4 linked regions of the Homo sapiens genome follow. The protein of the gene in region 2 purifies or fractionates together with the protein of the main gene of each other region. This does not show direct contact. Each region holds a gene or a part of one and is shown on either strand. Other genes may lie near its edges. The genes, in order: SUCLG2, NR2C2, MKI67 and GLUD1.

Region 1 (7,025 bases), about 53 Mb from region 2:
AAATGGCAAAATGATAAAAATGGCAAAAATGGTTAAAATGGTCAATTTTATGTCATGTATATTTTACTACAATAATAAATATATAATAAAAATTTTAAATTAAAGAATATACACATTCATATTTTTTAGTATCTTTAGAAGCTTTGGAAATCAAAAACAAGGTTTCAGAGACAAAAAAGGAACTTAATGATCCAAATTTTTAATCAAAAAAGCAATTCTTTTGCCACCTCCCTCAACACCCTAAAAGTCAATCAGAAAACACTGCTTTGTGTCAATAATTAATTTTACCTAAATTATGACAATGTTGCTTAACATCAAAATTCCAGGAAAAATATTCCACTGACCTGAAAAGAAGGACTCTGAAGTATGCAGGAGGAAATAGATTCATCCTGTAGCACATGACAACACATCTTCAAGAAAGGAACACTATGACTCTTGGCTTACCATAAGCGTAACATTACTGATATACTGCCAATATTAAGCAAAATGAAATACCACTACTAAATATTCTCACTTGGGGCCCTTTAACATAAAGAAAATTTAGTATTTTTCTCTCATCTTCCTATAAAGTTTAACTCTGTAAGTCTCCCCACATATTAAAATTATATTTTATACAAAATATAGTCATAAAAGCTATTTTATACTGGTCATAAAAGCCTCATCATATACTCATATCAAACAAAAAAGAAAGGATCCATTAGACACTCACAACATGCTATGCTGTGAGTTTTGGACGTGGGACTCCAATCCTAAAAGCGTCCTCAGGCCCACCCTCGCTTAGGACAAGTCACAAGCCTTCTGCCTCCATTTCCAACCATCCTATTCAACACTCAGCCATTCAGTCCTTCTGCATCATTTTAAAATTCATGAGGATAATCTGTTTACAACTTCACCATCTCAAAATTTACTTAGTTTTTCTAATGTGCCAAATAGCACGTATATTTTTTTCCATGGTAATTATAAAAAAGTTAAAAGCTGAAAAATTCCTTTTTTCCCTGTATTGTTGGCTTTCAATTTTAATGATACATCACTTTAAAAGAGCCCTGAATCTTAACAAAGAAACACTCATCATTAATAGTTTATTCCCTTAATCAAAAATAATTCATAACTCTCCACTTTCTATTACTTATTAAAGGCCCACGTAAGCCCTCAGGCTGGAATGAGAATGCCTATGAGAACTGGTTTTCCCCCTTTCTTTCAAAGGTAGGAAAGGACTTACTAACTCAAATAAGTCCTTCAAGTCCAGATGGTATAGCATAGCATCTCAACAACAGGTAAGAGAGTACAAGCAGAAGCTGGGGACAAAAAGCAAAGGATAAAAAATAGTTCCTTATAAAAATGTGAAGAGATCTCCATTGATAAGGAGAAAACCTTAATATTTTCTGGTAAAGCTATAATGCTGATCCCTACTTCTATTCAATGCTGTGGGCAAGCCAATCAATGCTGTGGGCACGGGGAAGGGAGGGGAATGGAGGGGAGGGCAGGGGAGGGGAGGGGAGGAGAGGGGAGGGGAGGGGAGAATATGGTGCCCTAAATGGATCAGGCCACTCCCCAGACACTGTACCCAGAGCCCTGAGCCCTGCTTCAGGCAGGGAGGAAAGCATGGTGCTGTTCCTCTCCACAGGCCTCCCGACTTCAGCCACAGACAATAAGATGGGGGTGGATCCCTTACTTAAAACCAGACAATATCGAAACAATAAAGTTTGGCCGGGCACGGTGGCTCACGCCTTAATCCCAGCACTTTGTGAGGCCAGGTGGGTGGACCACCTGAGGTCAGGAGTTGAAGACAAGCCTGGCCAACATGGTGAAACTCCATCTCTACTAAAAATACAAAAATTAGCTAGGTGTGGTGGTGTACACCTGTAATTCCAGCTACTTGGGAGGCTGAGTCAGGAGAATCACTTGAACCTGGAAGATGGAGGGTGCAGTGAGCCAAGATCTCACCACTGCACTCAAGCCTGGGCAAGAGAGTGAGACTCTGTCTGAAAAAATATAAATAAAAATAAATAAATTCAGCTTTCAGAGACACTGAAATGTGAAAAAGAAAAAAAAAAGGTATCTTACAAAGAAATATAAGTAATTGTCACAAGATCACAAAGCTATGGAGTGCTGAAGGCAAGAGTTAAACCCGGGCAGTCTGATTCCACTCACGGTGTACGTCTAGTATCCTGGCATAATGACTCACAGCATTGAATCGATGCCAAAGTCGCCCAAATGATCTCCATTCTTGCATTTCTCCAACCCTCTCCACACTATATCCAGAAAGAGTACTCTACGCATTAAACTGCCCTTGCCACTTCACTGTCTAAAACCCTTCAATGGCTCCCTATTGCCCTCCTCAAGAACAAGCTTAGCTTCATTACCAGGCCTACCAGGATCAGCGATCTTGTCCTTGCTCTTGTCTCTGGCCTCATTTCTCACCGTAAACTCTACAAGGCAGCCCTCCTGAACCTCCTTAGGGCTCTCAAGTCACAACTCTGGGACTAAGACAGCCCACAAATGGAAATACAGCAAGCACAGGGAGAAATGGATGGGAGCAGAAAAAAGATGCTAGTCCCCCCACTCCAACCCACAGGACCCAAACTTACACAAACCATGCCTTGTGCTTTGCCATGTCTCCATTAACAATTCATATATTATGTCAAATCCCTCGAATTTTAAAATAAAAATAAAATTCAAAGGTAAATGTTAGAAATCTATGCATTTATGGCTACTGCCTAAGTCCTATTCTTTTGGAATCATTTCTAGAAAGGGTAAAAGCTGACCATACTCAGTACACTGGTCAAAGTCTGAACCCAGAATACCAGGAAACTCCATCCTCCAACACCATCCCCCAAAGCCCACTCTGCAAAGGCAATGACATTTCACAATTTCTCCAGCATTCTTGAAACGCTGAGGGCAGTAGTTTGTGCTAAGCACACAGTGAAAGTCATGTCCAGTTGGCCGTTGGTTCATGCTGTGGCTACTGCCAATTCTTTAAGTGTTCCCTCACCTCAAATCTTTGATGCACGAGGTCCAGCAGTCGTCACTACTAAGTCAACACTGAGACATGTAAATGTTTGTGAAATGAGTAATAACCAGGATGGTACAATTAAGCTCCCCATGAGCTCCTCCCCACTGCCACCTCAGGCCTCACCAGACATTCATCCCAACTGTGGAATCCTGAAGATAATCAGAGCCCGGGAGGCAGATCTTCACCCCTCTGAGCCTCAGATTCCCCAGAAGTAAGCTGGGAACAATAACTCCTATTTCACATGGCTACTGCAAGGATGAAGTGAAATAAAATGTATGGAAGCACCAAGCCAGTGACTAATCCTGAGATGGCAGCACATGATAAATGCTTACTGAATCTGGGAAAGCAAAATTATTCTAGCTCAATAAAGCCTTTTAAAAAGACCAGCGAATTTAGCTTCAAATTCAGTGCAAGAGAAATAATCATCCTGGGCCCACCATCGGGTCATATGCCAAATGTCTTAAATATCATCTTATTTAATCTTTGTAACTATCTGTGCAAATGATCCCCTTTTCAAGTAACAGTAAATTGAGGCTCAGTCAGGTTCAATAATTTGCTCCAGGTTGCAGAGAAAGAACATGGGAGATCCCATAAGAATTTGAACTCCGTTGAATTTGAACCCAGACTTCGTGTCTTTAATCTCCCTACTACTCTGTTGACAAGACCCTGAAGCCAGAGAGAGAGGAAGGTGGATAAGAGTCCAGAAAGGGCAACCATGCCAAGTTGATCAGCACACCTTCATCAGCACAAGTCCAAATGACCAAAGGCGAGTGTCACTCAAGGGCAAAAAGATGGGGAAAGGTAAGCAATCAGTTTAACTGCCTAGTTCAGCCCAACTAGGATCTTTCAGTGACAGAGCTTAATAATTTAACAGCATAAGTCCTTTATCAGCATGAGGCGGGTGACTCCCTGGCACTGTGATTTTAAGCAAATGACTATAGGGCCTCTCTATGCCTCTGACTGCTTCTATAAAACATGGAGACTGTGAAATCTCCCCTGCAGTGATGTTGTAAGGGTTAAAGAAATAATGTGTGGAGATTACTTCACGCAGCCTTGTTATATACTACATGCCCAAGGAACAGTTCTATGATTATGAGGACCCTTTCACAACTAGGATTTCTATAGCCCCTTCCTTCTTCCTCATTTGCTGAAATGAGCCACATCATCCCTCAACTTCTCCTGTTCCTTACCTCCCTCTCCCTTCTCTGTGCACCCTACTCATTGACTGAGACCACAAATGCTTACTGAATACCAACTCCGGCCAGCTGGGGAATCACTCACGCTGTTACATTAAGCTGTATCACTTTGCCTTTGTGGAGCTTACATTCTTAAACTTGTAGGAGAGCGGGGAAGACGGCCAATGAACAAATAACACTACCAGGTACAGTCAAGTGTTATAAAGAACAAAGCAGATAAGGGTACAGAGAATAATCCCTGGAAAGGCAGGGCTGGGTAAGGTAATTAGGAAAAAGCCTATCTGAAGAATCAACGTTGAATCAGAAAGCTGATGAAGACAGAGATCAGGCAATGAATGATCAGAGGGAATAGTTCTGCAGACACAGGGTAAGTGGTTGACAGAGGCCAACAGTATCTTAGAAGGCTAAGAACACAGCTCAATTGCAGTACCCACTATGTTTTAGTATAACTACAGGTTTATAGGCCAGTTGTACCTCTGTGCCCTCTGAAGGTAGGAGCTGTGTTTCTTATTCCTGTCTGCATTCACTCAGTCATATTTATCTGCCCAACATTCTATAAAGAATGAGCTGTAATAAGCATTCAGAAAATATTTGCTACATAAATGATATTTGTTTGATTTTTCAGTTGTGGGGGTTAATTTTATTCCCTGCTGAATTCTGGGCTTTCTGAAGCCCCATTTAGACTTCTTTGTATACCCAAAAGTGCCATTGTCCCTCAACTTCTGCTATCCACCTCTCCCTTCTCCATACTAAACTGCTCACTACAACTACTCTCCCCCTGTTCTCTCACCTCTGCCTCTGCATGAATTCACCTGGACTGCCTTCTTCATCACCTCCACCTTCCTCACAAACTCTCAAGATTAATCTCCAAATTTCATTAGTGTACTGATATTATCATTTGTTCAAATATTTCCAAATCTCTCAAGTTCTTCAGTAAAACTTTTCCATCAAGTAACAGAAAGTGATGCATCAAGTGACAATTGCAGATTGAGTGGTAAAGACAGCTGAAGGACAAATGATCTGAGGTTACTTATGTAATTTCTTTTCCTCCCCCAAATATGCCATATTTCAGTGACTTTCTGGGCTTTGCGCCTGCAGAACTAGACCAGGGTACGAGGGCAGGAATGTTCTCACTACTGTGGGTCTGTGCACTCAATCACTCACCCATAAAAGAAATGCCTTATTTACAGCAAACAAAACCAATTTAGGACAAAGCTATCACTTAACGGTCTTCCCCACAAGGAAGGTCAATAGTTTAGCATCTAAATTATTTGAGATGGATTCCCTTTTCTAAAAGCAGAAATTGCAGCTGTACTTCATTTTAAAAAAAGAAAAAAGTCAAATATTTATTCTCCTAGGCAAGAGGGAGATACAGGTAAGTCACAACTTCCAATGCAGCCGCCACAGCCTCATTTAGCTGATAAGAACTTGCCCATAACCTTTAGTCCTTCACTTACAAAAGTCATGCATTCATCTTTCTCCTCCCACTTCCGTAAAGGCAGAAAATTAGGCTGGAGCCATTCTTTCTGAGTATACAACAGCAGGGGCATGGGTTTAAGCAGTTTCTTTGACAACATACATTCCTCTGTAAGTCCCTGGACAGAAGCTCTGGGCTGCACAGAAAACATACAACAAGGATTCTAAAATAGGAGGCCTGGCCAGGCACAGTGGCCCACATCTGTAATCCCAACACTTTGGGAGGCTGAAGGGGGCAGATCACTTGAGGTCAGGAGTTTGAGACAAACCTGACCAACATGGCGAAACCCCATCTCTACTAAAAATACAAAAATCAGCCAGGCATGGTGGCGTGCATCTGTGGTACCAGCTACTCAGGAAGCCGAGGCAGGAGAATCGCTTGTACCCAGGAGGAGGAGGTTGTAGTGAGCCAAGATCAGGCCACCGCACTCCAGCCTGGGTGAGAGTGAGACTCTCTTTCAAAAAAAAAGTAAAATAAAATTGGAGACCTGAAAGGCAGTGCTTCTCCTACAAGAGAGCTCCATGAACTTCCACTAGCCAAAGAGAGGGGAAATACCCTAAGAGACAACAAAACTGTGCTTAGACTTAAGAACCATTTCAAACTCAGTGCCCTCAGCCAACATTTCCCCTAAGACTTGACTGGCAGTATGTACTCATATCTTGCCCACCATGGCAGTGCCTGGCTATATTACACCACCAAGTACTGCACACACTTTTCACTTGGCTATATGGACACAGCAACATGGCCCCTGTCTACCAGGATTTAGGTCTTTGGAAAGACTTCTAACCATGGTTAGACCCTTACTGCTAAATTCACTGAACACCACTCTGCTAAAAGTTTCAAAGCCAGCCTAACTTAGATTTATAACAGGGGGCGTGTACAGTACATTAATTACATGCCTGTGCTTTGGCTGCCAGGACTGGGATTCAGCCTCTGTATGGTTTAAACCCCTGAAACCTCCTTAGCAGACCCTGCAGGTCTCCACATGATTTGGCCCTTGTCTTCCTCTCAGACCTAGTCTACTACCACTTTCCCCCTCTAATTACCTAGACATGCCCAGCTCATTCTCATCTCAGTCTTTGCACTTGCTGTCTGCTCTGCCTAACACACTCTTCCCCTTAGTCTCACCTAGCTGGCTACCTTTCATCGCTCAGGTCTCAGCTCATATGTCAAAAAGGCCATCTCCAGGATCACTTACATATAATGCTGAGCAATGTGAAGTATGTGTATGCCTACATATAATTTCACCTAAAGTACAAAACTGAACAAAACCAGCGTTATAAGTCAGGGGACTGGTGACCCTTTGTAGGGTGGAGGTAGTGACAGGCAGGAGCACCAG
Region 2 (7,852 bases):
GGGAATTAGGACTTCCCTGAAGAAGTGATGCTTGAGCCAATATCTGAGGTAGGGTGGGGGTGGGGGGTAAGCTTACACTGTAAGCTACACTGGTCAAGGAAGTTGAAGGTAGGCCAGTGTGTCTAGAGCACAGGAAGCTAGGGGTACCACAGATAAGAAAATAATGAAAAGCCTTGGAAAGGTTTTTAAACATGGAACAGGAAGCCTCTGCCATTACGTGGGTTCTAGTGGCGCCTGAACAACATACTGCCTGTAAGAGAGTTCTGTAAATCATAAAGCACCCTATACTTTGGTTAGTACTATTTAGTTCCATTATTTTGTTTTCCAAACTTTTGTCCTGGATGCCATGTAACTAGCTGCAAGCACAGAGCCAAAACTAGAATCTCGGTGTTCGAATCTATTGTTTTTGCCCCTACACCACACTGCATAAAAATTTCATTATTTATATCACTTAATTAGTCCAATGTCTATACCAGTAGTTCATAATGACAACAATAACTCTATTTACACAGTATTTGCTACATGTCAGGCACTTTTCTAAGCTCTATTATTTACATTAACTCATCTAATCTTCAGTTCAGGAAGGAAGGCTCTATTATTGTCCAGATGAGGACAGTGAGGCTAGGAAAGGTAGCTTACACAAAATCACACTGCTAGTAAAAGTTGGGGAGTTGCTAACCACAACACTAAAACATTTTATGTCTGTGTATGTATGTGTATAAATATCTCTATCTCGAGAGAGAGAAAGAGAGAACTCACACACAGAGAATTATATTCAACTCCAGCCTGGGCGACAGAGTGAGACCTTGGTCTCAAAAAATAAATAAATAAATAAATAAATCATATTCACATGTTTGAGGACCAGTGTCTTACTTTTTTGTATTCCCAGCCTAGCACATAGTGCCTGGAGTATTCGTAGCACTCAGGAAATACTTGATGAACTGAAAATGTATATAAGAGGCTGACGAAGGATTTGAATCTGGAAGTAAAGTGAGTTTCTGAGGCCCTCCTCCCAAGTCATGTATTCATCAGTAATTCATATGAAGGCTGTATTTTCCTCGACTTTCTTATTACATTGAAGATTTGTTCCTCACTACCGTTGCTATATTTCACAGCCTTTGGCTTGGAAACAAAGTGGGATAATGGACAATTACTAGTTCCAACCAACTCTCCAGCCACAAGCAGCCAGTTCTCGATCACATCAAATGCTCTTCCTCCAGGGCCGTTACACGGGATGTCCTGTCTGGAATGCCATTCCTCCCTTGGGTTCCTCTGTTCAAACATCACTTACTCAGAGAGGCCACCCTGACCATTCCATCTAAATTAACGCCTCAGGTCTTCTTCAGCAGGTCATTTGGCTTCTTTTCTTTCACAGAACTTATGACTCTCTGGAATTATTTGTCTATTCACCCCCCAGCCCCCAACTCTAGTGAGGGCAGGGGTCTTGTACAGCTGGTTCTCCAGATGTGTCCCCAGTGCCTAAAAAACTAAGTCAACATGTATTCAGCGAACGAATGAGAAGAGAATCACTCCCGAATTGTGCTCTCTCAAACCCCAAATACCCTTAACGCTTGCCTCTCCTGGTGGCTGTAATCCCATTTTTAACAATAACACCATTTTCAAGTGACTCTGAAGCTCGCAAAGTAGCGTTGCCTCCATTTTCTGAGTAGAGCCCCACAAACAATGCTCAGAAGGGAGGTCCGGCCTGGCAAGAATGCGCATGCCCCCCATTTACAGTCGATAAAATTGAGCCTCATTAGGGGATTCGCCAAGGCCGCTGCGAAATAACGAGCAGGAGCCCTGAAAAGTGTCCTGGTTCCGAAAACCTCTTCCCACGAGAGCGCATCGTGGACTCGAAATGCTTCATCACCTTTATTACTATTGTTCCTCAGTACTCATTCGAGACGCGTTCCAGGCGGAGGGAAGCAGCCCACCTGCTGACCCAAGACCAGGCGCCGGCCTCTCCACCCGGCCGCGCCCCTCGCGCCCCGCCCCCGGCCCCGCCCCCGCCGACCCGGCCCCACTCTTCGCCCCGGCCTCTACTCCCGCCCCGCCAGGGCTCCCGCGCCCCATAAGGACCACCCTCTTCCGCCTCAGCCAATCAGCAAAGCTTAGGGGGGCGGTGCCACAGGCCCCGGCCCTCCTATCTGGGCGCCAATTAGCCAGCCCATCCGTCGCTCACGAGGTCGCGCCTCGCACCCGCCTTCCTCCTTTTCTTTTACCCTCCCCTTCAGAAAAAACGGCGGTTGGGCTGCGACGGCCGCCAAAGGCGGACTAGAAGCGGAGGGGTGAAAATCCCGGCAGAGAAGGAAGAAGGGACTGCAGGCGGGAGGAGGAGGAGGATAAGGAGGAAGGGAGCCCGCCCAGCCGGAGCCATCTCCGTCGAGAACAAAATGGCGGCGCTGGCGGAGGGCCAACTATAAGGCGGGGCCGCGGCCATTCCCCCTCCACCCCCACCCTTGCGCCGGCCGGGCCGGTCAGGGGGAACCCGCTCGCTTCGCCCGGCCGCGGGCGGGGAGGGGAGGGGAGCGGCCCGGCCCACTATGCAAAGCGCCGGGCGCCGCCGCCGCCACCCCGTGGCAAAGGTAAAAGGGTCGGGTTCAGCCGCCGCCGCGGCGCCTCCATGTCCGCGCGCCAGGCCCGCCCCCTCCGCCGCCGGCCCGAGCCCGCCCGACCCTCTTTCAATTTTACCTCAGGATTTGGCGCCAAAGCGGCCTCGAAGCGGGTCCCGTGTCTGCGGCGGGCGGCCCCCGGCGCGGAGGGCAGGGCGCGGGGAGCCCGGGCTCCCGGTGTCGGCGGATGGCGGGAGCCCGGGGGCCGCGGGCTCGCGGGGCAGCGGGCGAGAGACGAGACGCCGAGGTGGGAGCGGGGTGGCGGGGACGGGCCCGGGGGCGCCGCCGGGGTCGCGGAGAAGGGGGGGTTTGTTATTGTTTTTGTCAGTGAAAGGTCAGAGTTCGTGACCCCGGTGCCGCCGCCGCCGCCGCCCGCGCGCTGGTAGGAGGAGGGCGAATGTTCTTCTTCCTCTTCCCAGCGCCAGCCTCGCCGCCGCGGCGGGGGGCGGGCGAGAACGCGATTGGCTGAGGCGCGCGCGCGCACCGGAACGCCGCAGCCGGCGCTCGGTCCATCCGGCCCGTGGGCTGTGGGGCCCCGGGCGGCGGCGGCTACGTAGCTGCCGCCGGCCTTGGCCGCGGCCGGGCGGGCGGATATGTGGCTTAAATGGCGCAGGCGTCGGGGCCTAGAGGCTGAAGGGCTGGTCGTCCTAAAAACTCGTGGACGTCGCGCACGGTTACCCGGACGCAGGCCCGCCCCTCTGGGGAACCGCGAGCTCCTCGCAGCTGGGTGGGGACCGTCCTCGCAGTGGCGGCCTCCACCCTGCCTTCTCGCTTAGCCAAGGCTTCTGGAAGGCTCGCAAAGTGTCTGTTGTTGGAAGAAGCCGGGCCCTGACTGGCGCGACGGATTCTCCCAGCCGCTCAGCAGAGCGTCTGTAGGTCGGAAGTGGGGGTTGTATTGGGTGGGTATTGAGCTCTTCGGCCCTTCCTCGGTACTGATAGTTTTTAATTTAGGTTTTAAAGGTCTAAAGATGCGCCCGTTCTGGCCATCTCAGGTGAAATGTTGAAACGCCCCAGAACCTATAATTTTTGGTTTCTTAGTAAACATACGATCCAGATCTTGTGTAATTCCATGCCCCTCCTCCTCGAAATTTGGAAGTAGTACATGGTAATAGGGATGTGTAAAGCAGCTTTTAGCAGCATTGCTTAAATTTATTTGAAGAAATTGGCCTGTCTTGCTCTTAAACTCTTGGGCTGTAGGTTTTCCTTACATATTTCTCTGTTTTATGTCGTGGTTTTGACTTGCCTGGGAAGGTGCAGGCGCTTATTTATCCTAAATGCCCTGAAGTGTTTAGGCTACAGGCTGTAGATCTTATACTGATTTTTTTTCTTCAGTTTTCTTGCTTATTAAGAATAAATATTGACTCCAGAATGGATGGGTTAACTTTTTTTCCCACACAGTATCCATTTGGGTTTTTATCAGGATGACTCCAACATTTAGTATTTTTTTTTCCATAATCTTATAATATTTCTATTTGGTAAAAAATGTTTTAAACACAGCTATTTCCCCTTCCTCCTTTTTCTGACGTTGCAAAATTGGGAAAAGAGCTAGGTTCGTTTTGTCATGGTAAAGCACAGCTCTTGAAATTGGAAGAGGCCTTAAGGGAATGTGGTCAAATTTTTTTCTTGCAGAAAGATTTTCCGATTTTAGGGGTGAAGTGGGTGAGAACTAGAAAGGTCAAGTGATGTACCTGAGAGGCAAAAGCAATTGCGTTTTTGCATTTTTGAAATTTGCTGTTTGATATTGGAATACATTCTTAAATAAATGTGGATCATTTTAATGCACATTTCTCACTTTATTTTTTTGCTAATGACTTATTGCTGTTTATTTTAGAATATGCTTTTTGTCTAATGATGTTAGATAAAAAGCAAATTTGGAGCAGTTTTCTTATTCGAGTTCAAAATGGTTCATAAAGCAGCGAAGACAACTCAAAACATCAGTAACACATTTGGCCCAGGAACTGCTAACAAACATACAGTGCAGTGGTGGCTTAAGAAGTTTTGCAAGGAAGAGAGCCTTGAAGATGAGGAACGTGATATGGGCCATGGGAAGTTGACAACGACCAATTGAGAGCAATCATTGAACTACATGAAAAATTACAGAAGAACTCAGCGTTGACTATTCTACGGTCATTAGGGTCGTTCAGCATTCGAAGCAAATTGGAAAGGTGAAAAAGCTTGATAAGTGGGTGCCTCATGAGCTGAGCGGAAATCAAAACTATCGTTTTGAAGTGTAGTCTTCTTTTATGCTACGCAACAACAAACCATTTCTCAATCGGATTGTGACATGTAATGAAAAGTGAATTTTATACAACAACCAGCTCAGTGGTTGGACCAAGAGGCAGCTCCAAAGCAGTTCCCAAAGCCAAACTTGCACCAAAAAAAAGGTCATGGTCACTGTTCGGTGGTCTGCTGCCCATCTGATCCACTACAGTTTTCTGAATCCTGGTGAAACCATTACATCTGAGAAGTATGCTCAGCAAATTGGTAAGATGCACCGAAAACTGCAATACCTGCTGCCTGCATTGGTCAACAGAAAGGGCCCAATTCTTCTCCACGACAACACCTGACTGCGTGTCGCACAACCAGTGCTTCAAAAGTTGAAGGAATTGGGCTACAAAGTTTTGCCTCATCCACCATATTCACCTGACCTTTCGCCAACTGACTACCACTTCTGCTAGCATCTTGACAACTTTTTGCAGGGAAAACACTTCAGCATGGTGCAGAAAATGCTTTCCAAGAGTTCGTCAAATCCTGAAGCACGGATTTTTATGCTACAGGAATAAACAAACATTTCTCATTGGCAAAAATGTGTTGATTGTAATGGTTCCTGTTTTGATTAATAGAATATGTTTTAGCGTAGTTACAATGATTTAAAATTCGCAGTCTGGAAATTTAATTTTTGCATCAACCTAATATTTCTATGGTAAATCCTTGCAAACATGGAAACAATGCATTTGGCCCAGTGCTTTGTGGTTGTGTACTCTTTTTCTTTGTTTTTTTAATAGATGGCATTGGCCGGGCATGGTGGCTCATGCCTGTAATCCCAGCATTTTGGGAAGGTGAGGTGGGTGGATCACCTGAGGTCAGGAGTTCAAGACCAGCCTGACTAACATGGTAAAACCCCATCTCTACTAAAAATACAAAAAAATTAGCTAGGCGGGGTGGCGGGCATCTAATTCCAGCTACTTCATGAGGCTGCGACAGGAGAATCATTTGAACTCGGGAGGCAGAGGTTGCAGTGAGCCGAGATCACACCATTGCACTCCAGCCTGGGCGATGAGCGAAACTGTCTCAAAAAAAAAAAAAGTTGGGGTCTCGCTGTGTTGACCAGGCTGGTCTCGAACTCCTGGCCTCAAGTGATCCTCCCATCTTGGCCTCCCAAAGTGTTAGGATTACAGGCGTGAGCCACCACACCCTGCCTGGTTGTGTACTCTTTTAAATACTAAGTTTTTAATGTTAAATGCTGCTTTTAGATACACTGTAAAAATACACCTATCAATGAGTTTTTTTATTAAAAACATTGCAATTGTACTAGACTTTAAATACTAAGCAATAATTCAGGCTTCAATGTTGGTTTATAGTTTTCTCATTTCTTTCATTTAATACCTCTGTAAAATGAAGCAGTTACTTCCATTTTCCTGAGGTGAGATAAGTGCCCTGCACAATGTTATAGGCCCAGTAAGTGAGACTGGAGCTCTGATCTAATCCCTTTGACATTAAAGTTTGTGCAGTAAACCAGCTATGTCAGTTTGCCACATTTGTAATAGTGTTCAATAAATTTTCACTTAAAGGTTTAATATTAAAGTAGTAGCAAGAATTCATAACCTTAATTGGCTTTAACAGCTTTTCTTTCCCTGAAAACAGATGCATATGTACACATGCACACAGATTGCTTACAATATCAGCACGTAAAAGGCCTTTGCACATTGAAGTCGGCACTGCTTTGGTGCCTTTTTTGTTTTTTGGCTCGGTGTTTTGACTGCAAGTCTTTTTGGATAGAATTTTATAGTTAGAAAGTAGCTAACACTTGGGTTTTATAGGCACAAAAAACAAGTCTTATACTAGCTGTACTTTATTTTTTGAGTTCTTATTAATGAGGAACATCCACTTTTGCATTGACAGTGATTTCAAGATTGCTTTATCAGCCTTTAAAGGATTCTTGACTAGTCGTGCACATCAGAACTGCCAGGTCCCCAGTGGTTCTGAAGCAGTAAGCTTTGGGTGGGCTCTGGCATCAGCACTTTCACTAAGCTTCACAGATAATTCTGATGCATACTCCAGGCCTGAACCACTGATCAATTTGAAACATGCATAACAAAGCAAAAAAAGTTTTGTTTCACCTTTTGAAATACAGTTAACTCTTTTACCATGCCAGAGATCATTCAGAGAGACAGGTCGTTGCTCCGGAGTGATACAGATCTGGCAGTACCCAGCCCTTGTGTGTGTGCGTTAGCTCAGCACCTGCCCACACTGCGAGCCCCCGTAGGATGTGCCTTGTCCTTCCCTGTTTCAGCACTTAACACACTACCTGGTACAGAGTATGTAGTGGGCATCTGTTGAATGAATGCTTTTCCCAGTAGCAGTGTATTCATACAATATTAATATAATTGTCCCCTGGCTTACAGATAAAAATGAAAGCATCAAGTGCCCAGTGAGTGAGACCCAGGTGTTCTTCCTCCACCCCTAGTGGTCCCCTGGGCAGGTCTTTTTTTTTTTGTAACACTCACCAGTCTGTTCTGTAGTCAATCATTGATTGACTTGTCTGTGAACTTGGAGGAACTGTTTCATAGTTTCATTAGCACAGAGTAAACATGTTTGCCATGCAAGGTTATTTTGCATCTGCATTTAAGTGATAATGTTGAATCAATGAAAAGTGTTGATTAAGCAGTAGTTGTAGATATGCTAAGTTTTTCAAATTACTAATATCAAGTGGAGATTGTTTTTACTTTTAAGGGTATTGCTTTTGTGATAGCATAAATAATGGTTTTCCTTTTTTGTAATGTAAATTAATTGCTGGCAACTTTTGTATTCCCATAGACTGGGGAAGCTTAATTGCCTTTACAAGTACTTATGTACAACTTTGTATCAAATTTTCTGTAATAGTTTATGCTTTAGTACTATATATGTACTAATAATTTTATCTGACTTCTGTTTATATCATTTGTACAATTACATGGTTGTAAAATAAACTTTTAAACCTCACGTAATTGCTGTTAGCCACCTATCCCCACCCCCTTTTT
Region 3 (7,025 bases), on a different chromosome or scaffold from region 2:
TTCAGGAGGAAATGTGTTCTTCAGTGCACAGAATGCAGCAAAACAGCCATCTGATAAATGCTCTGCAAGCCCTCCCTTAAGACGGCAGTGTATTAGAGAAAATGGAAACGTAGCAAAAACGCCCAGGAACACCTACAAAATGACTTCTCTGGAGACAAAAACTTCAGATACTGAGACAGAGCCTTCAAAAACAGTATCCACTGCAAACAGGTCAGGAAGGTCTACAGAGTTCAGGAATATACAGAAGCTACCTGTGGAAAGTAAGAGTGAAGAAACAAATACAGAAATTGTTGAGTGCATCCTAAAAAGAGGTCAGAAGGCAACACTACTACAACAAAGGAGAGAAGGAGAGATGAAGGAAATAGAAAGACCTTTTGAGACATATAAGGAAAATATTGAATTAAAAGAAAACGATGAAAAGATGAAAGCAATGAAGAGATCAAGAACTTGGGGGCAGAAATGTGCACCAATGTCTGACCTGACAGACCTCAAGAGCTTGCCTGATACAGAACTCATGAAAGACACGGCACGTGGCCAGAATCTCCTCCAAACCCAAGATCATGCCAAGGCACCAAAGAGTGAGAAAGGCAAAATCACTAAAATGCCCTGCCAGTCATTACAACCAGAACCAATAAACACCCCAACACACACAAAACAACAGTTGAAGGCATCCCTGGGGAAAGTAGGTGTGAAAGAAGAGCTCCTAGCAGTCGGCAAGTTCACACGGACGTCAGGGGAGACCACGCACACGCACAGAGAGCCAGCAGGAGATGGCAAGAGCATCAGAACGTTTAAGGAGTCTCCAAAGCAGATCCTGGACCCAGCAGCCCGTGTAACTGGAATGAAGAAGTGGCCAAGAACGCCTAAGGAAGAGGCCCAGTCACTAGAAGACCTGGCTGGCTTCAAAGAGCTCTTCCAGACACCAGGTCCCTCTGAGGAATCAATGACTGATGAGAAAACTACCAAAATAGCCTGCAAATCTCCACCACCAGAATCAGTGGACACTCCAACAAGCACAAAGCAATGGCCTAAGAGAAGTCTCAGGAAAGCAGATGTAGAGGAAGAATTCTTAGCACTCAGGAAACTAACACCATCAGCAGGGAAAGCCATGCTTACGCCCAAACCAGCAGGAGGTGATGAGAAAGACATTAAAGCATTTATGGGAACTCCAGTGCAGAAACTGGACCTGGCAGGAACTTTACCTGGCAGCAAAAGACAGCTACAGACTCCTAAGGAAAAGGCCCAGGCTCTAGAAGACCTGGCTGGCTTTAAAGAGCTCTTCCAGACTCCTGGTCACACCGAGGAATTAGTGGCTGCTGGTAAAACCACTAAAATACCCTGCGACTCTCCACAGTCAGACCCAGTGGACACCCCAACAAGCACAAAGCAACGACCCAAGAGAAGTATCAGGAAAGCAGATGTAGAGGGAGAACTCTTAGCGTGCAGGAATCTAATGCCATCAGCAGGCAAAGCCATGCACACGCCTAAACCATCAGTAGGTGAAGAGAAAGACATCATCATATTTGTGGGAACTCCAGTGCAGAAACTGGACCTGACAGAGAACTTAACCGGCAGCAAGAGACGGCCACAAACTCCTAAGGAAGAGGCCCAGGCTCTGGAAGACCTGACTGGCTTTAAAGAGCTCTTCCAGACCCCTGGTCATACTGAAGAAGCAGTGGCTGCTGGCAAAACTACTAAAATGCCCTGCGAATCTTCTCCACCAGAATCAGCAGACACCCCAACAAGCACAAGAAGGCAGCCCAAGACACCTTTGGAGAAAAGGGACGTACAGAAGGAGCTCTCAGCCCTGAAGAAGCTCACACAGACATCAGGGGAAACCACACACACAGATAAAGTACCAGGAGGTGAGGATAAAAGCATCAACGCGTTTAGGGAAACTGCAAAACAGAAACTGGACCCAGCAGCAAGTGTAACTGGTAGCAAGAGGCACCCAAAAACTAAGGAAAAGGCCCAACCCCTAGAAGACCTGGCTGGCTTGAAAGAGCTCTTCCAGACACCAGTATGCACTGACAAGCCCACGACTCACGAGAAAACTACCAAAATAGCCTGCAGATCACAACCAGACCCAGTGGACACACCAACAAGCTCCAAGCCACAGTCCAAGAGAAGTCTCAGGAAAGTGGACGTAGAAGAAGAATTCTTCGCACTCAGGAAACGAACACCATCAGCAGGCAAAGCCATGCACACACCCAAACCAGCAGTAAGTGGTGAGAAAAACATCTACGCATTTATGGGAACTCCAGTGCAGAAACTGGACCTGACAGAGAACTTAACTGGCAGCAAGAGACGGCTACAAACTCCTAAGGAAAAGGCCCAGGCTCTAGAAGACCTGGCTGGCTTTAAAGAGCTCTTCCAGACACGAGGTCACACTGAGGAATCAATGACTAACGATAAAACTGCCAAAGTAGCCTGCAAATCTTCACAACCAGACCCAGACAAAAACCCAGCAAGCTCCAAGCGACGGCTCAAGACATCCCTGGGGAAAGTGGGCGTGAAAGAAGAGCTCCTAGCAGTTGGCAAGCTCACACAGACATCAGGAGAGACTACACACACACACACAGAGCCAACAGGAGATGGTAAGAGCATGAAAGCATTTATGGAGTCTCCAAAGCAGATCTTAGACTCAGCAGCAAGTCTAACTGGCAGCAAGAGGCAGCTGAGAACTCCTAAGGGAAAGTCTGAAGTCCCTGAAGACCTGGCCGGCTTCATCGAGCTCTTCCAGACACCAAGTCACACTAAGGAATCAATGACTAACGAAAAAACTACCAAAGTATCCTACAGAGCTTCACAGCCAGACCTAGTGGACACCCCAACAAGCTCCAAGCCACAGCCCAAGAGAAGTCTCAGGAAAGCAGACACTGAAGAAGAATTTTTAGCATTTAGGAAACAAACGCCATCAGCAGGCAAAGCCATGCACACACCCAAACCAGCAGTAGGTGAAGAGAAAGACATCAACACGTTTTTGGGAACTCCAGTGCAGAAACTGGACCAGCCAGGAAATTTACCTGGCAGCAATAGACGGCTACAAACTCGTAAGGAAAAGGCCCAGGCTCTAGAAGAACTGACTGGCTTCAGAGAGCTTTTCCAGACACCATGCACTGATAACCCCACGACTGATGAGAAAACTACCAAAAAAATACTCTGCAAATCTCCGCAATCAGACCCAGCGGACACCCCAACAAACACAAAGCAACGGCCCAAGAGAAGCCTCAAGAAAGCAGACGTAGAGGAAGAATTTTTAGCATTCAGGAAACTAACACCATCAGCAGGCAAAGCCATGCACACGCCTAAAGCAGCAGTAGGTGAAGAGAAAGACATCAACACATTTGTGGGGACTCCAGTGGAGAAACTGGACCTGCTAGGAAATTTACCTGGCAGCAAGAGACGGCCACAAACTCCTAAAGAAAAGGCCAAGGCTCTAGAAGATCTGGCTGGCTTCAAAGAGCTCTTCCAGACACCAGGTCACACTGAGGAATCAATGACCGATGACAAAATCACAGAAGTATCCTGCAAATCTCCACAACCAGACCCAGTCAAAACCCCAACAAGCTCCAAGCAACGACTCAAGATATCCTTGGGGAAAGTAGGTGTGAAAGAAGAGGTCCTACCAGTCGGCAAGCTCACACAGACGTCAGGGAAGACCACACAGACACACAGAGAGACAGCAGGAGATGGAAAGAGCATCAAAGCGTTTAAGGAATCTGCAAAGCAGATGCTGGACCCAGCAAACTATGGAACTGGGATGGAGAGGTGGCCAAGAACACCTAAGGAAGAGGCCCAATCACTAGAAGACCTGGCCGGCTTCAAAGAGCTCTTCCAGACACCAGACCACACTGAGGAATCAACAACTGATGACAAAACTACCAAAATAGCCTGCAAATCTCCACCACCAGAATCAATGGACACTCCAACAAGCACAAGGAGGCGGCCCAAAACACCTTTGGGGAAAAGGGATATAGTGGAAGAGCTCTCAGCCCTGAAGCAGCTCACACAGACCACACACACAGACAAAGTACCAGGAGATGAGGATAAAGGCATCAACGTGTTCAGGGAAACTGCAAAACAGAAACTGGACCCAGCAGCAAGTGTAACTGGTAGCAAGAGGCAGCCAAGAACTCCTAAGGGAAAAGCCCAACCCCTAGAAGACTTGGCTGGCTTGAAAGAGCTCTTCCAGACACCAATATGCACTGACAAGCCCACGACTCATGAGAAAACTACCAAAATAGCCTGCAGATCTCCACAACCAGACCCAGTGGGTACCCCAACAATCTTCAAGCCACAGTCCAAGAGAAGTCTCAGGAAAGCAGACGTAGAGGAAGAATCCTTAGCACTCAGGAAACGAACACCATCAGTAGGGAAAGCTATGGACACACCCAAACCAGCAGGAGGTGATGAGAAAGACATGAAAGCATTTATGGGAACTCCAGTGCAGAAATTGGACCTGCCAGGAAATTTACCTGGCAGCAAAAGATGGCCACAAACTCCTAAGGAAAAGGCCCAGGCTCTAGAAGACCTGGCTGGCTTCAAAGAGCTCTTCCAGACACCAGGCACTGACAAGCCCACGACTGATGAGAAAACTACCAAAATAGCCTGCAAATCTCCACAACCAGACCCAGTGGACACCCCAGCAAGCACAAAGCAACGGCCCAAGAGAAACCTCAGGAAAGCAGACGTAGAGGAAGAATTTTTAGCACTCAGGAAACGAACACCATCAGCAGGCAAAGCCATGGACACACCAAAACCAGCAGTAAGTGATGAGAAAAATATCAACACATTTGTGGAAACTCCAGTGCAGAAACTGGACCTGCTAGGAAATTTACCTGGCAGCAAGAGACAGCCACAGACTCCTAAGGAAAAGGCTGAGGCTCTAGAGGACCTGGTTGGCTTCAAAGAACTCTTCCAGACACCAGGTCACACTGAGGAATCAATGACTGATGACAAAATCACAGAAGTATCCTGTAAATCTCCACAGCCAGAGTCATTCAAAACCTCAAGAAGCTCCAAGCAAAGGCTCAAGATACCCCTGGTGAAAGTGGACATGAAAGAAGAGCCCCTAGCAGTCAGCAAGCTCACACGGACATCAGGGGAGACTACGCAAACACACACAGAGCCAACAGGAGATAGTAAGAGCATCAAAGCGTTTAAGGAGTCTCCAAAGCAGATCCTGGACCCAGCAGCAAGTGTAACTGGTAGCAGGAGGCAGCTGAGAACTCGTAAGGAAAAGGCCCGTGCTCTAGAAGACCTGGTTGACTTCAAAGAGCTCTTCTCAGCACCAGGTCACACTGAAGAGTCAATGACTATTGACAAAAACACAAAAATTCCCTGCAAATCTCCCCCACCAGAACTAACAGACACTGCCACGAGCACAAAGAGATGCCCCAAGACACGTCCCAGGAAAGAAGTAAAAGAGGAGCTCTCAGCAGTTGAGAGGCTCACGCAAACATCAGGGCAAAGCACACACACACACAAAGAACCAGCAAGCGGTGATGAGGGCATCAAAGTATTGAAGCAACGTGCAAAGAAGAAACCAAACCCAGTAGAAGAGGAACCCAGCAGGAGAAGGCCAAGAGCACCTAAGGAAAAGGCCCAACCCCTGGAAGACCTGGCCGGCTTCACAGAGCTCTCTGAAACATCAGGTCACACTCAGGAATCACTGACTGCTGGCAAAGCCACTAAAATACCCTGCGAATCTCCCCCACTAGAAGTGGTAGACACCACAGCAAGCACAAAGAGGCATCTCAGGACACGTGTGCAGAAGGTACAAGTAAAAGAAGAGCCTTCAGCAGTCAAGTTCACACAAACATCAGGGGAAACCACGGATGCAGACAAAGAACCAGCAGGTGAAGATAAAGGCATCAAAGCATTGAAGGAATCTGCAAAACAGACACCGGCTCCAGCAGCAAGTGTAACTGGCAGCAGGAGACGGCCAAGAGCACCCAGGGAAAGTGCCCAAGCCATAGAAGACCTAGCTGGCTTCAAAGACCCAGCAGCAGGTCACACTGAAGAATCAATGACTGATGACAAAACCACTAAAATACCCTGCAAATCATCACCAGAACTAGAAGACACCGCAACAAGCTCAAAGAGACGGCCCAGGACACGTGCCCAGAAAGTAGAAGTGAAGGAGGAGCTGTTAGCAGTTGGCAAGCTCACACAAACCTCAGGGGAGACCACGCACACCGACAAAGAGCCGGTAGGTGAGGGCAAAGGCACGAAAGCATTTAAGCAACCTGCAAAGCGGAAGCTGGACGCAGAAGATGTAATTGGCAGCAGGAGACAGCCAAGAGCACCTAAGGAAAAGGCCCAACCCCTGGAAGATCTGGCCAGCTTCCAAGAGCTCTCTCAAACACCAGGCCACACTGAGGAACTGGCAAATGGTGCTGCTGATAGCTTTACAAGCGCTCCAAAGCAAACACCTGACAGTGGAAAACCTCTAAAAATATCCAGAAGAGTTCTTCGGGCCCCTAAAGTAGAACCCGTGGGAGACGTGGTAAGCACCAGAGACCCTGTAAAATCACAAAGCAAAAGCAACACTTCCCTGCCCCCACTGCCCTTCAAGAGGGGAGGTGGCAAAGATGGAAGCGTCACGGGAACCAAGAGGCTGCGCTGCATGCCAGCACCAGAGGAAATTGTGGAGGAGCTGCCAGCCAGCAAGAAGCAGAGGGTTGCTCCCAGGGCAAGAGGCAAATCATCCGAACCCGTGGTCATCATGAAGAGAAGTTTGAGGACTTCTGCAAAAAGAATTGAACCTGCGGAAGAGCTGAACAGCAACGACATGAAAACCAACAAAGAGGAACACAAATTACAAGACTCGGTCCCTGAAAATAAGGTGAGAGGAAGTATTACAGCATCACTCAATATCGTCTTGGATAGTTGTGAATTTCTGTGTTATACTTTGCATGTAACCTGACGTTATAAGTGGTTATCCTTTCCCCAGAGGGTTTCCTTTAACACTGAATAACTGCAGGCCATGGTAAAGAATCTTCTTGGGACCTATAGAGGGA
Region 4 (7,025 bases), on a different chromosome or scaffold from region 2:
ACTCTTGCCACTTACTCATCAGATTATATTTTTTCACTTAATATTAATGTACCTTCTAACCCACAATAATGTAGCGTAACTTAATTTAAAATGAAGAGAGGAAGGTTAGAAGCAGGGAGGAACTCTCAATGACCACCCACAAGTAATGACCACCTGAAATACTACGTCTCAGATAAAAATTCAGACATTCAGCATGGGAAGGAGCACTGCATATAGGAGCTAAGAAAAAGTACACACTTTAGGCTGGGCGTGGTGGCTCACGCGTGTAATCCCAGCACTTTGGGAGGCTGAGGTGGGCAGATCATTTGAGGTAGGAGTTCGAGACCAGCCTGGCCAACATGATGAAACCCTGTCTCTACTAAACACACAACAAAATTAGCTGGGCGTGGTGGTGCACACCTGTAATCCCAGCTACTGGGGAGGCTGAGGCAGGAGAATCGCTTAAACCTGGGAGACCGAGGTTGCAATGAGTGGAGATTGCACCATTGCACTTCAGCCTGGGCGACAGAGAGTGAGACTCCGTCTCCAAAAAAAAAAAAAAAAACCAGAAAAATTATACTTTAATTGCTTTAGCAGCATCAATGTACTGTTTTGTATAAAGTAGGCAAATACCATCTTAGATTTTTAATCCAGTCTAAATCTTTTATTTTAACCTGAATAAATTTTGAAGAGGTAACTAAGCTTTCTGGGAAGCAAATGTTTAGCTGATATTAGAAAAATATAACCTATTGACACATCAAAGAAAAAACGGAAGAATACTTTTTTCATTAAAAATTTAAAATTATAACACATATGTATGTATTTCTATCAAAATTTAAATACAAAAAGAAAGCTGAAGACTCCCTTGACTTCCACTTATGACCCCAGTCTTCTCCTTAGGGGTGACTATTCTTAGCAATGTAAGTGTATATCCTTCCAAATCATGTTCCCTGCAATTATATATGTACATATCCATAAAACATACAGCTTTGTTTTGTGTTATTTAACTTACAGCCTGACAGATGGAAGATTATACATTAAAAGGGGGATTTTGTTAATTTTTCTTGGTAGATTCTTTTATTCTGATCTTGATTAACAGTAACTTAGCTGCACTTTCACACCAAACAGGTCTTGGAATCGGAAATGATGCTAGTTAAAATGGTGAATATAAAGTTGGATTTAGTAAAAGGTAACAATAACTTGTTATTAAAAAGTTTCAAAGGGATAAAGGCTTGAAACCTCAGCTATCCAGTTTCATATAAATTATTTACAAGTCTACGTGATAATTTGAGATGGGTCTTAAGAGAGGCAGAGGAATCCTAGGGAGGGGGAAGTGAGGCATGGACAGGCAGAGGGACTGCACTATTCAAGGGCATGATGGAGAGAAGTACGTGCCTGGATTTCCAATTTCCCTAAGGATAATTTTACACCAGATCTTCTTTATTTTAAAAATCCAATCCTTTTCCTTAATAACCCCATCTGTCCCTGATACCACCATTTTTTTCTACCAGTCTCTCAGGCTAGAAATTTTGTGGTTATCTTTGCCTCTTCTCTCCTTCATCCTGTAAATCCTACCTGTTGGGAATACATTACTGTCCTTTCTTCAAAATGTTTTATCTGTCTTTTCTTTTTCATTCTCTGCTATTAACTATAACTTCATTCTCAGTTCCACTGCTGCCTAGCTTTCTGTGCCCTGCTAGATTCATCATTATTCATCCAACAAACATAAAAGGAAAAAATTGGCCTGGCGCGGTGGCTCACGCCTGTAATCCCAGCACTTTGGGAGGCCGAGGCGGGCGGATCATGAGGTCAGGAGATCAAGACCATCCTGGCTAACATGGTGAAACCCCGTCTCCACTAAAAATACAAAAAAAAAAAAAAATTAGCCAGCGTGGCGGTGGGCGCCTGTAGTCCCAGCTACTCAGGAGGCTGAGGCAGGAGAATGGCATCAACCCAGGAGGCGGAGCTTGCAGTAAGCCAAGATCGCGCCACTGCACTCCAGCCTGGGAGACAGCGAGACTCCGTCTCAAAGAAAAAAAAAAAAAAAAAAAGGAAAAAATTGTTTTTTCTCACACATTTCTGACACCAAATGTGTGGGTTTTCCACACTAAGCAGTTCTCCAGTTCTCTGCAGATACAAACTGGGTGTCCTGCAATTCAGTTATGACACTGACTACCAGGGTTAGCACAGACCCCACAGCTCAAGGGCTCAGTCGCACAAGACTGTTCCCTACTTCAGATGCCAGTTCCAAGTCTTGGGTGCCCAGGGCACCCACACTTCTGTCCAACTTGGCTACCAACCAGGGGGTTCCCATGGCCCCCTCCTCAGGTTCAATAATGTTATAAAGGCTCACAGGACTCAGGGAAACGTTACTTATGTAAAGGATACAAATCAACAGCAACATGAAGAGGTACACAGGGCCATGTCTGGAATGTCCCCACTGCAGGAGCTTCTGTTCCCCTGGAATTTGGAGGGTACCACCCTACCCATACATGGATGCATTCACCAACCTGGAAGCTCTCTGAACTCTCCCCATACTCCAGCCATCAGTTAGGGTTTGTATAGAGGTTCCATTATGAGGGCATGACTGATTGCTGATTAAACTCAATCTTCAGCCCCTTTCCAATCTCCAGAGGTCAAAGGGTGGGACTGAAAGTTCCAAATTTCTAATTATGGCTTGGTCTTTTTGGTGACTAGTCCCCACCTTGAAGCTACCCAGAAGCCCATTAAGAGTGTCCTAGTTAGAACAAAAGATGCTCCTATCACTCAGGAATTTGCGACATTCAGGAGCTCTGTGTTGGGAACCAGGCAAAGAGACCAAATATATTTACTGTCACAAGCCCTTATTTCTCATTATTTACAAATGTAGTTTGTCCTCATGACCCCCTTACACACAGTTCCACTTCCTGCCTTGGGTGAAGCCACCCCCTCTTTATCTGAAATGGCCTTATCCAACTCCTATCCAGCCTTCTCTGTTCCCACATCAAGACTGTCTGTCTGCCAGGCACGGTGGCTCACGCCTGTAATCCCAGCACTTTAGGAGGCCGAGGTGGGCTGATCACATGAGGTCGGGAGTTCGAGACCAGCCTGACCAACATGGCAAAACCCTGTCTCTACTAAATATACAAAAATCAGCTAGGTGAGGTGGTGCATGCCTGTAATCCCAGCTACTTGGTAGGCTGAGGCAGGAAAATTGCTTGAACCTGGTAAGCAGAGGTTGTAGTGAGCCAAGATCGCGCCACTGTATGCCAGCCTGGGCAACAAGAGCAAAACTCTGTTTCAAAAAAAAAACAAACAAAAAAACAAATAAACAAACAAGATTGTCCTTGGTTTCCTTGAACTCCTACTGCAACAACACATGATTTACTTTGTTTTGTTTTTTTTTTTGTCATTTATTGACTGGTTCTAGGAAAGGAAAATGTAGAAATGGAATACTGAGCTTATAGCAAAACAAAAAAGACATAGGGTACAAAGGAGATTTGAATCTGCTCTACTTGGGAGAAATCAATGAAAAAAAATATTCCAAGAAATAAAAAAATTCAACTTTGTTTTTTTAAAAGAACCCTCTGCATAAAGTTCAGAGATCTTGCCTGCAGGAACAAAAAACACATAATAGAAAAATTGATTTACTTAGAATATAGACTATAGTTCATAATAAAAGCAGTCCTTATTTGGTAAACCTTCAATACGAGTACATCACCCTTGGTTATTTCTTTGCTCTTTCTCTCTTGGCATAAAAGAAAAAAAAAATTCATGCAAAATCCTACTAAGGCCCAATATGTACAAAATATCTTTTAAAAGTCCTATGTTGATATATTTGTGATAATGACAAACGATAAAAGAAGTCATACTACTGACAACCTTTGAAATTTTCATTTGTCATCTTTCACATTTTCCTCTAGCCTAGAAGCAAATCAGAAGAATTACGTCTGATAGACTTTCTCCAAGAATAATAATCAAGAGAAATAGCAATTCATAATAAACAAAGCATTTTCTTAGTTTTTAATGAAGAAAACTAAGAAAGTAATTTCAAAATTATTCAATAGAAAATCTTTAAAGATAAATGGACTACACACTGGTAGAGAAATGAGTTGTTCTGGCTAACACATTAATCTCTTAAACACCAAAGTCTTCAAACCTCTTTTGATGGAAAACTGTTTAAAATGTTATTTCAGGTCTTCGGAGTTGGGTGTAGGGGAAAAAGGTTATTTCATTTCCTTAGCAATTAGAATAAATGGACCTCTAGAGATATCATCTATGCTGAGTTTTATATGCAAAGCTGTTTGAATATGTATTTTTCTAGGAAGAAGGTAGGTCTTCTAATAGCTTTTAACAGAAATTTCAAAGGTATCTATGATCCAAAGTATTAGGAAGCATTGTGTCAATGGCATGAAGTGGTTCTCAATCAGCGCTTACAATTAAAAGCCTAAGATACAATTTGTAACTTTTTGCATAAATAAATCCCAGACAACAATGATTAAGGTGGGTGCTGGAATCAGATGCCCAGAATCTGAACCTCAACTCCACTACGTACTAGCTGTGTCACCCTGCCAAAGGACACTTCACTCCTCAACCTTAGTAGCCACATTTGGAAATCAGGGACAACAGTGTATTGCATGAGGCATAAAAGCAATGATACATGAAAAGTTCTTACATGCATTGTTGCTATAAGGCATAGAACTGATGATGCATGAAAAGTTCTTAATAAAATGCCTGGCACACACAGAGCTGAATAAATGTTAGCCTTTGCTAATATCTGACCTTGGTGAAGGCAGTTGACCTCAAGTGAAGGCAGAATGTGTGTGGCTGCAGAATCTTCTAGGTGTAGTTGCCTTTTTGTAAAGATAATCGGAAGGTCTTGAGTAGCTCCTTCTCCTAGTTTGTCTTCTTGTCCTTAATAAAGCCTTTCCTGCCTTTAACAGTAGTATTTCACATATTAACAATTCCGACTTGATAGTGAACACTTGAATCTGTATTAATTTCTGCCTCTGGAAAGGGGAAAATATTGATTCATTTGAATAACTAGTCAGTTTTAGACAGCGGCATTAGATTTAAGACTGTTCATGGTTATATTGGGGGAAGGACTTGGGGTAGAGCTGCTTCACTTTTCATTTTGTAACTTTCGTTACTATTTGATTATGTGAATCATGCATGTGTATTTTATGGGTTGCTGAGTACAAAATTTATGGGCTATTTATGAATCAATGTGCTCTAAAGTGATACTAGAGATTTTTCTCTTTATTACTTACATTGTAAAAGCCTAATTATTGGGTAAAATAAATAGAAAAGAAGAACAGTCACGTGGCAGAGACTAGTGTCTAGGATTTTTTCAACATCTACAGGTTAGTATTTTAGTTTTTAATGGTTACAGAACCCTTAGTATTTTTAACATAAGTAAATAAAAACCGATTTTCCTAAGCACTCTGAATTATTAACAGCGGTAAACCTAATTTCTTCCCACTATATGCCAAAAGTTCAGGCTCAATTTTTATTTCTTGTACTTAAACACTACAAGTTGTACTGAACTTTAATATATATTGGTGCTTAGGATCCAATTTTTGATGCCCTAATTCTTACAAAGTATACTTTGGATAATGAGTGAGCAGCTGTTTGTCTTCCTGCACGTGGGGCTTTACTGCCAAAAGCAAACTTGCTAAATGGATTCATACACGCAAGTGACAGAAAGACTGAAATCTGATGTACAGATCACTACCATTACCAAGCGTCTTCATTTTCTAGTATACTTTGGGAGAAAAGACGCATTTGGCTTCCATGAAATAAAAAGGCATAAGGGCAACACATTTCCGTATTTAAATAAGATGTATTAAAAACAACAACCTCGGGGCTAAGTGCTTTTAAAAGACACACAAATTACCTATCCTCTGACTGAACTTTCAGAAAAGTCCTAAATTAAATTCACCTACAAAGGTTATATTTTATCTGTGGCAGCAGATGCAGACACACAGCCACTTAAAAATATTAGAAACTGTGAGTTTATTAAAAGTTACCTAAGTTTTGATGGTTGTCAATTGAGCACAGCAAAATAAGTCAGAAACATTTTTTCCCCCAGTGAAGGCAGAGAAATATCTCATTTTAAATCAGTATCAGTGCTTTCTATAGTCTTCCCTTAAGCGCTAAACAATGACATCCCAGAGGCTGAGGGCGTCTTTAACACTGCATTGACTCCGGTCTTCCCTTGCATTATGTCATCAAGATTCCACTGTTTCCTTCTGGCATTTTGACTTTTAAAAACTAGTTACTGGATTAATATAGGGTACACTTTTTTGGGTACTAATATTTGTAATTAAAAGACTTAGGGTCAATGTATGAGAGAACTCCATCTACGGTCCATCAACTATATGTAAATTATGATAATTTTAGAAAATTTTATGATAGTAGCATCAGTGATAGGGAATTTTAATAGTTTTAATATCAAGACAACTGGGGGGGGGCAGACTGGAAGAGAAAGTTAATTGACTCCTACCATCAATAAATTGCTATTATCAATCTGTACTTTCCCTCCAAACTGACTTTAAAACAATAAACTTCCTTCTAAAAAGGTAGACTGGTCTCAGGCAGAACCATAGCAAATGAAATACAGATAATTTACTCTGGGAAAGTTAATAGAACAATCTTTGATAATATTTCCAAACCCACCAGAACTTTTGAACCAGTCTTCTCAAATCAGTCGCATATTCTCACACTATGCCCCTTTGCTGGAAATATTTTTAAGGCCTCACTTAAACTTCCCTTCAGATCCTTTAGCTTACCCTTTCAAATCCTTAACACAGACAAATCTAACGGCCTCAGGTACATGTAGTAACTGGGAAAAGAAAAGCACAAAAACAGTGTGTATTATTAAATATTTACTTGGAAAAAGTACACATCAGCCACCAAGTCTTATAACCATCTGTTTCCCTTAGAGATTATTGCTAGATTGTTGCTTTGCTTCAACCTCAAGAATTTTAATTTAGAAAACTCAGGGATAAGGTTGTTCTTGAGGGAAAATGAGATACAGAAAGCTGAAGGTTGGTAAAAGGGTGGAG

Evidence for each region.
Region 1: the proteins of NR2C2 (region 2) and SUCLG2 purify together in Homo sapiens (affinity purification with mass spectrometry; 2 studies listed by BioGRID). This does not show direct contact.
Region 3: the proteins of NR2C2 (region 2) and MKI67 purify together in Homo sapiens (affinity purification with mass spectrometry; 2 studies listed by BioGRID and IntAct, with this or other methods). This does not show direct contact.
Region 4: the proteins of NR2C2 (region 2) and GLUD1 purify together in Homo sapiens (affinity purification with mass spectrometry; 2 studies listed by BioGRID, with this or other methods). This does not show direct contact.

Annotation. Positions count from the first base shown.
Region 1 is NC_000003.12:67,644,610-67,651,634, forward strand, and holds part of SUCLG2 (succinate--CoA ligase [GDP-forming] subunit beta, mitochondrial isoform 2 precursor), read right to left. Parts: intron 1-7,025. UniProt on the Homo sapiens protein: GTP-specific succinyl-CoA synthetase functions in the citric acid cycle (TCA), coupling the hydrolysis of succinyl-CoA to the synthesis of GTP and thus represents the only step of substrate-level phosphorylation in the TCA.
Region 2 is NC_000003.12:14,942,746-14,950,597, reverse strand, and holds the start of NR2C2 (nuclear receptor subfamily 2 group C member 2), read right to left. Parts: upstream 3,016-7,852; 5' UTR 2,692-3,015; intron 2,586-2,691; exon of another isoform or gene 2,157-2,585; intron 1,967-2,156; exon of another isoform or gene 874-1,966; intron 1-873. UniProt on the Homo sapiens protein: Orphan nuclear receptor that can act as a repressor or activator of transcription.
Region 3 is NC_000010.11:128,102,404-128,109,428, reverse strand, and holds part of MKI67 (proliferation marker protein Ki-67), read left to right. Parts: intron 1-5; coding exon 6-6,850; intron 6,851-7,025. UniProt on the Homo sapiens protein: Protein that associates with the surface of mitotic chromosomes and acts both as a chromosome repellent during early mitosis and chromosome attractant during late mitosis.
Region 4 is NC_000010.11:87,084,822-87,091,846, forward strand, and holds part of GLUD1 (glutamate dehydrogenase 1, mitochondrial isoform a precursor), read right to left. Parts: intron 6,803-7,025; exon of another isoform or gene 4,741-6,802; intron 1-4,740. UniProt on the Homo sapiens protein: Mitochondrial glutamate dehydrogenase that catalyzes the conversion of L-glutamate into alpha-ketoglutarate. Plays a key role in glutamine anaplerosis by producing alpha-ketoglutarate, an important intermediate in the tricarboxylic acid cycle.